Linked DNA regions of Homo sapiens. The protein of the gene in region 3 purifies or fractionates together with the protein of the main gene of each other region. This does not show direct contact. Each region holds a gene or a part of one and is shown on either strand. Other genes may lie near its edges.

Region 1 (3,500 bases), on a different chromosome or scaffold from region 3:
CCTGAGGGTGTGCTCCGCCCTGTACCTCAGTGTGGTTCCTATGAACCGGAGCCTCTGGGCGCTTCCAGGCTGGACCAAATCTGTGAACACACACACAGCAAGAAGAGCCCAGTCTCCACATGAGCAGTTCTGTGTGGCTTGACTCAAATGTCTTATTTACTCTGGGCATTTCTTGGCTGAGAAGGCTGGAGTACACTAGTACTCTAAGACAGTGACACAGTGACCTTATTCCATTCTCCTTTTCCAATTGGCATTTCCCTTAGCTCTACAGTTAGGCCAAACGGGCCTTTTAGCATAGAGAAAGCAGAATCTGAGAGATTCTTTTGGGTAATAGGAACTCTGGATGGGCTGGGCCAGTGAGCTTACAGATCAAAAGTTAAATGCTTGACTCTGGCATTAACAAGCTAATATGCCACATCTATAGGGCTTTCCTTGGGTAGGGTAGGGGACTTTCTTCAGATTAAAAAAATACAGCATATATATATATACACTCATTTCTGGCTGACAAAACTACCTCTGTATGTATGATGGCACTAAAGATACTAAAATTACATATTTTTGTAAAAAGCAGTAATGTCTTAGATTAGGGAAATTTGCAAGCTGAGTAAGTCTGAAAAGAACTGAAGATGATCTTATAAAAACCCTTTCAGTCAGCTAATGTAGAATTCTATGGTCTTAAGTAAAAAATACCCTTAGGCCGGGCGCTGTGGCTCATGCCTGTAATCCCAGCACTTTGGGAGGCCGAGGTGGGTGGATCATAAGGTCAGGTGTTGAAGACCAGCCTGGCCAAGATGGTAAAACCCCGTCTCTACTAAAAATACAAAAATTAGCCAGGCATGCGTGGTGGTGAGCACCTATAATCCCAGCTACTCGGGAGGCTGAGGCAGAGAATTGCTTGAACCTGGGAGGCGGAGGTTGCAGTGAGCCAAGATCATGTCACTGCACTCCATCCTGGGTGATAGAGCGAGACTCCGACCAAAAAAAAAAAATACCCTTAGCACTTAAGTCCTAAGGGAGCTGCCCCACCCAAGCTGAGGCTTCAGGTTCCTATCTAAGGGGGGGAAAAAAAAGAGAAAGGAAATCCTGTTTCCTTTGCTTTGGGGATGGTGACAAGGAGAGCAATTTAAAGGGTTGGAAAAAGCTGTGTCAGGCCCCTTGCAGTCTCTGGACTCACTGCTTCCTTGTTGAACGTGCTGGGCCTCCACTCTTTCCTAGGCGTCATTAGCGCTGCTGAGGGGTCTCGCTCAGGGTTAGCTTTCTCCCTTGGTCAGGGGAAGGGACTTTTTTTTTTTTTTGAGAAGGGGTCTCACTCTGTCACCCAAGCTGGAGTACAGTGGCATGATCTCGGCTCACTGCAACCTCCGCTTCCTGGGTTCAAGCGATTCTTCTGCCTCAGCCTCCCAAGTAGCTGAGATTACAGGCACCCACCACCATGCCTGGCTAATTTTTGTATTTTTAATAGAGACGGGCCTTCAGTATGTTGGTCAGGCTGGTCTCAAACTCCTGACCTCATGATCCGCCCACCTTGGTCTCCCAAAGTGCTGGGATTACAGGCGTGAGCCACCACTGCCCAGCCGGGAAGGGACTTTTGCAACAGTATGAATGTTTCTTTTAGACAGAACCTTGTTCTTGATTTTGGGTAGCATTCCAAAGGAAGGAGAGGGTTCTTGTGTTAAGAGGTCCCTTCAGGACACGGAGAGAGGTTGAGTGATGAGCTGGAGAGACCTGGGCTTTTGGGGAGGAAGGACGATGTGAGGTTAAGAGCATCGTATTTGTTGAAGACACAGAGTTGAGGAAGGCTCGCTCTGTGGAAGAGGGCAGTGGAGCTGGGTTGGGATGGAAGAGAAGAGGAATGATACCTCACCTTGGGAGAAGCAGCCCGCAGAAAGGCCTGAAGTAGCAGGAGTCAAGCCCAGATTAGGTGGTCTGAGTGGACGGAGGTAAGGAAGAAACAAGGGCTGGTAAGATTTTAGGCTAGAGAACTTATCTGTAACTGTTGTTTTTGGTGTTGCTAGTACATAAAATCTCACTTGTCATCTTTCTTTCCTCCTATCCCACACCTGGGCTCACCAGGGATCCAGTGAGGGGACTGGTTTGTCTGCCTTGCTTCCCCAACCTAAAAACCTGACTGTGAAAGAGACTAACAGGTTGCTCCTGCCCCATGCCTTCTCCCGCAAACCCTCGGATGGCTCCCCTGATACTAAGCCCTCCAGACTGGCTTCTAAGACCAAGACTTCCTCTCTTGCCCCTGTTGTGGGCACCACAACCACCACTCCGTCGCCCTCTGCTATCAAGGCTGCTGCCAAGAGTGCTGCCCTGCAGGTGACAAAGCAGATCACGCAGGAAGAAGACGACAGTGATGAGGAAGTAGCCCCCGAAAACTTTTTCTCCCTCCCTGAAAAGGCTGAGCCACCTGGAGTTGAGCCATACCCTTACCCCATCCCCACTGTCCCTGAAGAGCTGCCTCCAGGCACGGAACCAGAGCCGGCTTTCCAGGACGATGCAGCCAATGCCCCCCTTGAATTCAAGATGGCAGCAGGTTCAAGTGGGGCCCCTTGGATGCCTAAGCCTGGGGACGACTACAGCTACAATCAGTTTTCCACATATGGCGATGCCAATGCCGCTGGTGCTTATTATCAGGTGGGTAGGAGGCACAGAGGGCAGGCGAGGGAATGTTGGAACATGGTGGTCAAGGAGAGCTTTGAGCTAGTGATACAGCCTCTGTGGTGTCACTTTGGCTAAATTAACCTTCTCTATTTATTAGGCCACAGAACATACCTTTATTCTGAACCATATTAATCTAAATTGCCCAAGTCTTAAAGTGTGACAGGGTGAACCACATAAATGACATCTTTATTCTGAAAACAATCTATTTATTTTTTATTGATCCATAATATTTGTACATATTTGTGATTGATATATATATATATATATATATATATATATATATATATATATATATATCTGTTTTTTTTTCTTCCTAACCTTTATTTTAGGTTCAGGAGGTACATGTACAGGTTTGTTACATGGGTAAATTGCATGTCACGGGTTTGGTGTACAGATTATTTTGTCACCCCAGGTGATGAGCATAGTACCTGATAGGTAGGTTTTTGGCCTTTTTTTTTTTTTTTTGGAGAAGGAATCTCACTCTGTTGCCCAGGCTGGAGTGCAGTGGCACAATCTTGGCTCAGCTGCAACCTCTGCCTCCCGAGTTCAAGTGATTCTCCTGCCTCAGCCTCCCGAGTAGCTGGGACTACAGATGTGTGCCACCCTAACATGCCCAGCTAATTTTTGTATTTGTATTTTATATTTTTTGAGACGGAGTCTTGCTCTGTTGCCCAGGCTGGAGTGCAGTGGCACGATCTTGACTCACTGCAACCTCCGCCTCCCAGGTTCAAGCAACTCTCCCACCTCAGCCTCCCAAATAGCTGGGACTACAGGCACATTCCACCATGCCCGCTAATTTAATTTTTGTATTTTTAGTAGAGACGGGGTTTCAC
Region 2 (3,500 bases), about 21 Mb from region 3:
GAAACTCTGTCTCAAAAAAAATATATATATATATTCTCATGGCAATAATTTCCTACACAAGAGAGTGAAAGAAAAGTCCTATATAACTTTATGGCCATAGCTACTATTTTATGTATATGTCATATTTCAGATTCAACATACATTTAGTGTTTGTTGGATATCAACTGTGCAGTGTACTGTACTACAGTGTACTGGGAGGACAAAGATAAAAAGATATTCATGTTTCACATTTATAATCTTAGCAGGAACAATATGACACATACACAAATTATAATAGAAGTAAAAGTATAAGTTATATAAAAGACCTTTACATATATTATAGATTCAGAGAATGGAGAGAACGTTTTAGAGAAATGGTGTTATTTGAACCAAAGGTGGGTTAAACTTCTTAAAGGTAGAAATGAGACTGTTAATCAGAATGGAGTTGGTCTGGGGTTGGAAGAGAAATGACATAAATGAAGATAGATAGGAAACATTTTATGAATTTCCAGGATATGATTAAACAGCATTGTTTGGCTAGAGCAAAAGGTAAGGAAATAGTGGGTAACAGACATGAAAAAGTAGTACAGTAATAGCTAATGACCAGATAATGTAGGATCTAAAATGCCAAGCTGAAGAATTTTAATCTGACTTACCTATTGAGAGACCACTAAACATTTTTATGTAGTTAAGTGATGGATCACATCTGTGGTATAGGAAAATTTGTCAGTTGAGTGCAGGATCGATTAGATGAGAAACTACAGAACACTTCAGAAGATTGTTGTTGGAGTTTGGACGAAAATGTTTAATGGCTTGAACCAGGTTATGGCAACGGGAATAGAATATTGCAAATAAAGAATAGGATTTACTTGGCAACCCATTGAGTATGGAATTGAGAGTCACAGGTTTTAGCCTGGGTGATAATGAGGATACGAGAATCTCCTGATACATATTCAGTTAACAGGAAGAGGAAACTTAGATACTCAATTTTGGACCTATTGCATTAGACTTTTTGGTCTGTCCTTTAGTCTCTGCTCCTTGATAACAAGGACGTTGTCATATTAGGATTTGAATACATTTCTAACACTAGTGTCTGGCACATAGTAGCTACATAGAAAAATTGTGTTGACTGACTGAAACTAGATAAAAAATAGTTGACAAACATTTATTTTAACTTTCGAGAGTACAATTTGAATTAGAGATCTGGAAGTTATCCACAAATATCCTGAGGTGATATTTGAAGTTAGATCAGAGGACAAGAGTCAACAAAGAAAAAGAGGAAAATTGTTCATGGTAAGAATCTTGAGGAATGGGGTTCCTTAAGTTTTCCGTAGTTAGGGAAAAAGGAATGGTATGATTTCACACTGAAAAACACAGAAGTCAGAGTGAAAGACTAGAATTGGTATATGGTTGGTTTTAAGAAAGAGTGAATAGTTAATAAGGTCTGTTTTTTCAGAACAGTCAGGAGGGTGATAGGGACTGAGAACAGGCTCTAAGTGCTTTGGTTAGGATATTACCCAGTATATTTTTCTAAAAAGCCACTTTAAGAGGTTTAGTAGATATGGAGGTCAGTTGTAAAGGCTAAGTGAATAATAAGTGGAAACAGTTCACTAGGTATAGTCATGCTGTATTTCTCACCTTGTTTAAAGATCTGTGAGAAAACATAGATTTTTAAAAATATTTTTAACTCACTCTGCATGACAGATATTACATTTTAGAAAATATTTTAAAATTTTAAATGTATTTTAATTTACAAATTAAAAAAATTATTTTAATGTTACATTTTACATGGAAGGACATGTGCTGTTTTCATGTCTAAGGATAATTTTTAATTTCACCATAGTGCCTCACATTTCTCTGACATTTCATTTTTAATGTCTTTGTGACTTAGTATAGTACAATTTTTATTTTTATAATGTCTGTCATGCAGAGTGAGTCTAGAATGATTTTATAATTTTGCATGGCATTTTGCCTAAACAATACTCTTTACTGATGAATGGTTTTATCACTTTTACTCTTAGACTTTGTGAATTTGAGACTTCTTTAGATTATAGGTATGCTTCTAATTATATTTTTAATTCCTGGAGTTGTAGTTTTCTCTGTAGATAGGTATCAAACTTATAGTCATTTTATTTTGCCTGTATTTCCAAGTCCAGGAATGGTTTTCATAGCTAAATAATAAATACTAATTTTGCCTGATCTTTGCAAGTCTAGGCAGGGTGATAAAATATTTTTGAAAGCTGGTAATTACTAAAATTTATGATTTCAAAAAAGCATAGATGCTAGCTTGGTAAATTTAAAAATTTTTCTTATGTTGGCATTATATCTGTTTTGTATATGTCTTTTTTCATATGGGAGAAAGGTTGAATTCACTATCCTTGGTAGTCATATTCTGAAGTCTGTACTACTACTATTTGAAAAATTATAATAGCCTTAACTCTTTTTAAGAACCAAAATGATTTTGCTTTCATAGTGGAATCTTGGAATTTCTAGGTGACTTTGGGGAAATAGTGTGGATGCTCTCCAGAAATTCCTGATTGAACCTGAGATTGAACATAGCAATTCTGGAGTTATTGGTGGCACTAACAACAGCCATCAGAATTACCTAAATTTTAATATCCAGTCATGAACATCAGGAGGAATGAAGGAGGAAGATTCAGTCCTTTGGGAACCTGATGTAATTTTAGATAGCCAAATGTTTGGATAACTGATAAGGAAAAAGTTTAATTTAAAATACATGTTGATGTTGAGTTCAGTTTGCCAGTATTTTGTTGAGGATTTTTCTATTTATGTTTATTAAGGATATTAGCTTGTAGTTTCTTTTCTTGTAGTATCATTGTCTGGCTTTGGTATCAGGGTAATGCTGGCCTCATTAAATGAGTTTGGAAGTATTTCCCTTCATTGTTTGGAAAGAGTTTGAGGAGGATTGGTATTAGTTCCTTTTTTAAAATAATTTCAACTTTTAGTTTAGGTTCAGAGGGTACATGTGCATGTTTTTTACATGGGCATGTTATGTGACACTTTGGAGTATGAATAATCCCATCACCCAGGGGTTTGGAGTATGAATAATCCCATCACCCAGGTAGTGTGCATGGTACCCAGTGGGTAGTTTTTCAGCCCTTGCCTCCCTCCATTTGTCCCCCTCTAGTAGTCCCCAGTATCTGTTGTTCCCATCTTTATGTCCATATGTACACCCAGTGCTTAGCTTCCGCTTATAAATGAGAACATGTGGTATTTGGATTTCTTGTTTCTATGTTAATTTGCTTAGGATAGTGGCCTCCAGCTCCATCCATGTTGCTGCAAAGGACATGATTTCATTCTTTTTTGTGGGTGCATAGTATTCCATGGTATATATGTGTCACATTTTCTTTATCCAATCCACTATTGATAGGCACCTGGGTTGTTTTCATGTCTTTGTTATTGTGAATAGTGCTGCGATGAAGATCCAAGAGCATGTGCCTTTTTGGTAGCATGATTTATTTTTCTCTGGAAATATACCCAGTAATGGGATGGCTGGGTCA
Region 3 (4,089 bases):
TGGTCAATAATGAGTATCTGAAGTGTTTGACCAATGTCTCTATATGTTTCTAAGTGAAATCATTTAAATAAATTTCCTCGTTTTCTTGTTTTAATTTATTTTGTCTAAAAACTACTGAAATTTAGAGGCTATTTAAATAGCTAAGCACTCAAGATGGTTTTGCTGCAGAGAAAGTTGAGCCTTATTTGCTGTTGGCTTCAAGAACCAAGGGGATGCTGGGTAAAAAATCTAAAATTGTCTAGAATTCCTTCCTTTCCTTTTCTTTTTCATTTTCTTTCTTCTTCCTTTGCTTTTCTTCTTCCCCTTCCTTCCCTCAAGGGCCAGAAATTTCCCAACACATTATTTAAGTAGCTAATACATAATGCATATATATATATATACACACACACACACATATATATACACACACATATACACACATATATACATACACATATATATGTGTATATATATACAAACACATACATATATGTAGTCATTGTATATATTTCTAAGTAAATGTTTTTTATACATTTCGAAAAAGGACCAGAGGTAAAGAACCACTTTTACCACTAGGGTGAGTTTTTTGTTGGGATCATAATTATTTTTGGCCAGGTGCAGTGGTTCACGCCTGTAATCCCAGCACCTTGGGATGCCAAGGTGGGAGGATCACGAGGTCAGGAGTTCGAGACCAGCCTGGGCAAATGGTGAAACCCCGTCTCTACTAAAGATACAAAAATTAGCTGGGTGTGGTGGCGCATGCCCATAATCCCAGCTACTCGAGAGGCTGAAGCAGGAGAATTGCTTGAACCCAGGAGACAGAGGTTGCAGTGAGCTGAGATTGTGTCACTACTCTCCAGCCTGGGCAACAGAGCGAAGGAATTTTTAGTCCCAAGGAGTTCTAGTGTCACAGGAGTCTGGGACTCTGAGGGATGCTCTTCAGCATCCCAGCTCAGCTCCTCCAGGAAGTCAGCAAAATGGTACTTTACACCTGTATTAAAGCCAGTGCAGCCACATGACACATATTTGTTTGTTTTCTTTTATTTTCTTTTGAGACGGAGTCTCTGTCACCCAGGCTGGAGTGCAGTGGTACGATCTCAGCTCACTGCAACCTCCGCCTCCCAGGTTCAAGCAATTCTCTGCCTCAGCCTCTTGAGTAGCAGGGATTACAGGCACCCGCCACCACGCCTGGCTAATTTTTGTATTTTTAGTAGAGATGGGGTTTCACCATCTTGGCCAGGCTGGTCTTGAACTCCTGACCTCGTGATCCACCCACCTCGGCCTCCCAAAGTGCTGAAATTACAGGCGTGAGCCACCGTGCCTGGCCATGTTTTGTTTTTTGAACAGATCCAAAGAACTTTACATCAAAAGGATTTTCATTCCATTCACCAAGCCTGTTTTCTTTTTCTCTCCAGCTTCACGAGAAGTTTGACCTTCTAAAGCGGACACACCAAGAAGAAAAGAAGAAAGTGGAAGACAAGAAGAAGGAGCTTGAGGAGGAGGTGAACAACTTCCAGAAGAAGAAAGCAGCGGCTCAGTTACTACAGTCCCAGGCCCAGCAATCTGGGGCCCAGCAAACCAAGAAAGACAAGGATAAGAAAAAGTAAGCAGGTGTCACCCCCCTGTATCGGGGACCTCTAACAATTTATTCCTCTTGCATGTCTCTACTTTTCCCATTTACAGACTGGAAACTGGTCCTTTACCAGAAAGATAAAAGCAAGTATTTTCTCTACAGTGCAGGGAAGATGATGAAGGTTTTTAAATTTTTTTAAAAGGTACACAAAGATTAATTTATAAAACTTTACCACAATTGACCAAGCAATCAGGCCTGGAGGAACCTGTTGTCTCCAGTAGCATCTTCCACACCAACACTAGGAGTCTCAAAGAAGACAGGTTGATGTCTCTTCAGCACCCTCTGAAGACAATTCTCATGACTCTTGATAGAGAGCATCCTAAAATCACAATTGTTAAAATTATTTTCCTATTCTGTGTTGTAAGACTTCGTAAGCCAGTCACTGAAATTCTCGTTCCCAAAATGAAACATTTGGAAGAGCTGCTAGTGGCCACTAGTTTCCTCAAAATTCAATATGATGAATTGTTTTATTGTGAAATGGGATCCAAATGCCTATCCAGTTGACACCTCTGCCAACCTCAAGCCAAACCTAAACCCATTCATAAAAGGTTTTTTTTAAATAGGGTCTTAATGTCATGTGCCAAAGGGTCAGATTCTGCTCTTGAGTTGGTCACTTCCTGTGATACTCCAGTAGCAGCTGCCTGAAACCAGTGGGAGATTTAGGCCTCCCTTGACATTCTCCTGTGATTTGAAGCTCTCCTTTGAATCATCATAAAGCCTAGTTTTATGTCAATGCTATCGGTTTTGACAGGAAGCACGATGGTAAGAATACCACTAACGAAAACCTTTGTGGTGTCTCAATGACAAATATGCAGATGCCACCCTCCTTTGTCTAATGTACGGTGCTTTAGGGCAGCTATTTAATATAAAGCAACTCAGAACTTGTTTCAGGAAGTGTTGCTCTTTCGCCTTACATGCCAAGGTTCTAGGGAAAAAGCTGACCATATGTAAAAACATTGATGCTCAAGCACATAAAGAATTACATTCTTTAAACATAGAGTACATAGGATCAAGTCTCTGCACAATAATTGAGATGTGTTATAGGGAAAAGTGAGCACAGTGCTATTGTCCACTTAGTCTTGGTGAATGTGCAGTAGGCTCACCCCTAAGGAATCTCATGTTGCCTGCAGTAAAAATAAAAATGGACTGCTACAATGACATACTGAGAGAGTTTTAAATCATGCTTTACAAACTGACATTCTGAGCTCTGAGACAGCAGAAAATGTATCACCAGAGCAAGGGAGGAGGCAAATGTTCTGAACAATAATTGAAATGGTTGTGATTTTATTTGGAGTTGGCACAGATCCAAGTGACCAAAGGAGTTCAAGGCCCAAAATTTAGTTATGCTGGATTAATTCTGAGAGTAACAAGCACATAGATTATAATCTAAGAAAACCCTTTGTAGCTATGCATGTCGGGAGAGCATCTAACACTAATGGTGATGTTTCCCATGCAGAGACTCAGATTACAGTGACTCTTCCAGTGAAGACAGATGAAAGCCATTGGGCATTGTACCTTTGTTAATCCAAGCTAAACTAACCAAGGATATAGGGGTGTGTATGTGTCTGTGTGTGTGTGTTTGTGTGTGTGTACACATACATCTATAGGTATGAATGAGACAAAAAGCTGCTGACTTACAGCTTAGGAAATGCAAAGTCAAGTTTTTCTTTTCACCCTGAGGCACTCAGTGCATAAAGGTTCAAGTTTTAAAACTAAGAATGTTTCCAAAAGACCAGCAATGTTAAAAGAGTATTTCGTGTATACTAGACGTGCCTTTAAGCAATAAAAATTCCAAGAGCTGATCATTATTGTGCTTCCATTTTAGAAAAGTTTATTTAGTAACAAACTTCCCAGTGTAGGGAGGTTTTTCCTTGCCCTTTTGAACATGTTAGGTTATTTTCTTCCTATCCTGGGGCCTTACCAATGTGTAATGCTTTCAAAGTTTCTATGAAGCCTGTGTGGATTCTATTTTAGCTTATTTATATATTCTCATTTATTTTGAAGGATATTATACTTAATTTGGTTCAGAGTAGTCGCCAGGTTTTGCACCTGACAATGGCACATATTTTTTGTATAACTTTTTCTAGGTCCTTACCCTTTTCCACACTTTACATTTGTACAGTGAAAGCAACTGCCAGTGGAGGCCTGAAATGTCCAAGAAAAAAAAAAATCACACCTCTTACTGCCAGTGGTAGTGGAGTGTTTTGGTTAGAGGGACCGCAGAAAGACAGTGGCCAGGCTAGACAGAGCAGCACTTTGAAAAGAGCTGGGAAGATGCCTCCTAGCATAGCTGGAACAGATGTGGGAGTTGCCATTCAGGAACTGACTTTGTTATAGGTAGAAAATGAAAAGGCAGATGCTTACTTATTTACCTGCTATGCTTCCACCTCCAAGCCTAACTTAGTTTTTCTAATAGTTTTAAATTCTCTTTTTTCTGTTCTAATGACACGCTCCTTTTTTAATGTAGGTAAGGCTTT
Region 4 (3,500 bases), on a different chromosome or scaffold from region 3:
AGGTTGTCTCTTTTTTTTCCTCCTCCCTAACCTGATGGAGGTTGGTGCTTTGGAAAAAGCAAAGCGACCTGGGCTAGTAATCTTTTGGAGAGGTGTCATCATTGTCTCCTTTCTGGTCATTATGTAGGCATGTATGACTTTGTATGTGTACTGTTAGAGCTCAAGGAAGACATTAAGGATACACAGTTTGTTGACTGCACTGAGCGGTTATTTTTAACATTTCTGCGTTACCAATATCGAATTTCAAACTTCCATTTCAAAGGACTTAAAATTTACACCTGGTTGTGTGCCTTGCTTGTCTGAACAGAATGCTTGCATAAATAATGAGATTGTTGCTTGGGCGTTGAGTAGCAGAAAATTTCTATCCAACCACCAAAGACTCAGAAACCATTGAGAACCCTAATAATAATTTAAAAAGCCATACCCAATGTTATGTGTGTGTATACTTACATATTCACATTCAAATATTTTCAGTAGTATTTTCCATCTGTTATCAGGGGGGCCACAACCAGAAGCTTGTTGGCCAGCATTGGAGTTTTAGGCTTCCAGGCTACCTCTAGCACACTGGTGAAGTGTTAAGAGGCGTGGCAGATTTGAATCCTAGTTGCTGCATTGTTATGCAAAATGAGACACACTTTTTCTTTGAGGAATCTAATTGCTCTTTTATTCTCTTGGACTTTCTTTCTTTTTTTCCTCAAATGCTTCTTTACAATGCAAATGTTTGCTATTGTAAAGAGGGGATTTAGAGACACCTGTTAGGTCCAAAAGATACTTATTGCGGTAGACTGAGGGGAAAAAAAAAAACAACCCAGTAGATCAGAGGTCCGTCTACCTTGGGGGCATCAGAGAGATGCCATTTTTGTAAAGAACATTTCAAATGAATGAGGAATGTGGGGTATCAGAACCCTTGAAGAGGGTGAGGGGAGGGAGGGCTTCCTTCAATGCAGCCTTTCTCTTATGACTTATATCAGTAACAGCCCAGCATCAGGACTAGGTGCACTGTGGTGTTTCACAGAAAATATTCACCACAAGAGCATGTTCAAAGCAGCCTTAGATCTTTTCTTTTGTTCGTTTGTAAAGTGGTTTTTGAGCATTTCTCGTCAAGTTTCTTGAAAAGTGCTTTGACCAACACCTGAGGCTTAGAATTGACAAAAAAAAAAAAAAAAAAGTGCCTCGGCTTGTATTATATTGTTAATGCTTGAATTCTATTTAAAGTATTCCTGACATGGTATAACTAGAAAGTGACACTTGTGCAGATAAGTATTTAAAATTTTTTTCTTTTATTAAGTTTAAGATAAATCATTCTACAGGCCAGTATAAAAGCATATCACATCCTTTTCTAAAAGGTAATTGTGATGCTCCTTATATTGTTGTAATATTTTGACATTTATTATTATGTATTACAGCAAGAGCATAAAAAGAAGAGTTTTATAAATTATAAAAGTGGTGCTGTCCTCCAGTGTTTTCTTGTTTTTTTTTTTTCTCCTTTAGAAATCTTCCTTTGTAAACAAGGCCTTTGTCAAACTCTTCTAGGTCAGCAGCTTTTTGATACCCCAGAGAAATAATAAATCACTATTTATGACATCTTGACATGGTGCCATGAGGACAACTGAATTATCACATATGTAATACTAAGGACTGTTTCCCAGCATTTGCAAGTGGAAGGAGTGTTGGTAGGACCTGATTTAACCACTTTAAGATTTGATTCTGTTTCTGGTCAAGATGATTTAAGGGACGATAGGGACAAATTCTTTGGTTAACTTGAGTTACCTTAGAAAACTATATGAGTTACATTTCTTTTCTGCTGTATTTCTTGTGAACAGATGAGAAAATTTCCCTAGTATGAAAGCCACATTTAGGGGCTATTTCTGATTTCTCCTTTTTAATGTAAAAGAATTATCTTCTAAATTGTTTTTTTTTCCCCCTTAAATATTGTGTTTTGGAGATGTCTTTGGCCAATAGAGGATGTGAATTTTCTGTCATTTTTGGAAGCGTTCTTATTAGGGGACTCTAACCTTTAGCCGGTTAATAAAGCCATGGGTCATTCGCTAAGTAGTGAATAGAAAATACACATGGTGGTAATTTATTTGATAGCATATTTAGGAAGGCCTGGAGTGATTATTTTTTCTATATAGAAACTTATGACTTTATACTTACTAGGGACTATAGGAGTCTAAAACTATGTTCTGCCAGAGTCATTATGAAAGAGAGCATATTTATTTACGTAAGATATTTATCATTAAGTTAAATGGGATCTTGCAACCTGGGCTGGCAAAACTGCAGCTTTCTTACTGTTTATTATGAGTTTATTATTACCCATGTTAATATAGCACTTTTCCTTGAAAGTGTAGGATATGTTAAAGAGAGCTTTTAAGTAGTAAAAGTTATAAATATATCGTCAAAGATGCTTGAATAATTGTACCTCAGAAAAACATACAATAGAGCCAATGAAATTCAGGAACAAAATAGCTGGTCTTTTGAATGTTTGATATAAACACCTCATTAATTTACACATTTGGAGTGATGGTTTAGATATGGAATACAAGATTTTGGCCTGAAACTCTGACATAATGTCCTTCTGGACTTCTGGGTTTGTAATACATTATTATATAATTGAAGCCTAGTATGAATTAGGATATTTTATTAGATAGCTACGACTTCCAGAATATTTGAACAATTGTAATCTGGCCGTATACCTGTAAGATTTACAACAGTTTTTAAAACCACAATATTCTATAGTATTTTTAGGTGGATTAGTATCAATTTAAGCATCAATCTTATGCCAGTATGTCATCTACATCTATGCAAGCAGTAATATTTTAGAAACTTTTTAGAAACTGGCCTAATTTAAATATGGGCTGGCCCTTTTGTAAGTTGATGAATGGGACCCACAGAAGTTGAAATAATATTTAAAGTTTGAAAACCATTAAATATAATTGAAACTCCCTCCTTTAAAAAAAACAAAAACAACTAAACTCAGAATTTGGAATTCAAAATTACTTAAAAATGATAAAAATCTCTAACCAAAAAGGAACGTCATATGTTGGCTTACAGGTTATCCAAGGGAAATTCTGTATCAGTTTGCACTTAAACTGTATTTTTCTGGTTCAGGATGATTATATATTTCTTTACCTACTTGATGTGGTATATTTCAGTTTTTACCATCCCACTGGGAGATGCTTTATCACACATGGATATTGGATGTCCAGAAGGAAAGCCCTCTCCCATCTTCCCCCCTGTGCTTTGTTGAACTGGACATGTAATAAATGGCTTTGCAAATAGTCACAATTATTTTGTGGCTTGCTGTTGTGCTATACTAAAAGACCATTAAGCAGAGTCCAAAATTCTGTAAAAAATAGATGATCTGTAATTGATAATTTATGTGTCTTAAAGAATGTACCTGAACATTTAATATTGTATTTATAATAGCATATTGAATACAAGTAACAAATGGTAAACTGCATGGGCCATGTGATACAGAGAGAGAGATCAGGGTGAGC

What was found. Proteins that work in one complex are often made in the same cells at the same time.
Region 1: the proteins of SEPTIN11 (region 3) and PRCC purify together in Homo sapiens (affinity purification with mass spectrometry, with the first as the bait; one large-scale study listed by BioGRID). This does not show direct contact.
Region 2: the proteins of SEPTIN11 (region 3) and RAP1GDS1 purify together in Homo sapiens (co-immunoprecipitation; one large-scale study listed by IntAct). This does not show direct contact.
Region 4: the proteins of SEPTIN11 (region 3) and SMARCA2 fractionate together in Homo sapiens (co-fractionation; one large-scale study listed by BioGRID). This does not show direct contact.

What each region holds. Positions count from the first base shown.
Region 1 is NC_000001.11:156,784,535-156,788,034, forward strand, and holds part of PRCC (proline-rich protein PRCC), read left to right. Parts: intron 1-2,073; coding exon 2,074-2,640; intron 2,641-3,500. UniProt on the Homo sapiens protein: May regulate cell cycle progression through interaction with MAD2L2.
Region 2 is NC_000004.12:98,264,384-98,267,883, forward strand, and holds part of RAP1GDS1 (rap1 GTPase-GDP dissociation stimulator 1), read left to right. Parts: intron 1-3,500. UniProt on the Homo sapiens protein: Acts as a GEF (guanine nucleotide exchange factor) for the Rho family of small GTP-binding proteins (G proteins) that stimulates the dissociation of GDP to enable subsequent binding of GTP.
Region 3 is NC_000004.12:77,029,389-77,033,477, forward strand, and holds part of SEPTIN11 (septin-11), read left to right. Parts: intron 1-1,394; coding exon 1,395-1,582; intron 1,583-4,089. UniProt on the Homo sapiens protein: Filament-forming cytoskeletal GTPase. May play a role in cytokinesis. May play a role in the cytoarchitecture of neurons, including dendritic arborization and dendritic spines, and in GABAergic synaptic connectivity.
Region 4 is NC_000009.12:2,018,347-2,021,846, forward strand, and holds part of SMARCA2 (SWI/SNF-related matrix-associated actin-dependent regulator of chromatin subfamily A member 2), read left to right. Parts: intron 1-3,500. UniProt on the Homo sapiens protein: ATPase involved in transcriptional activation and repression of select genes by chromatin remodeling (alteration of DNA-nucleosome topology).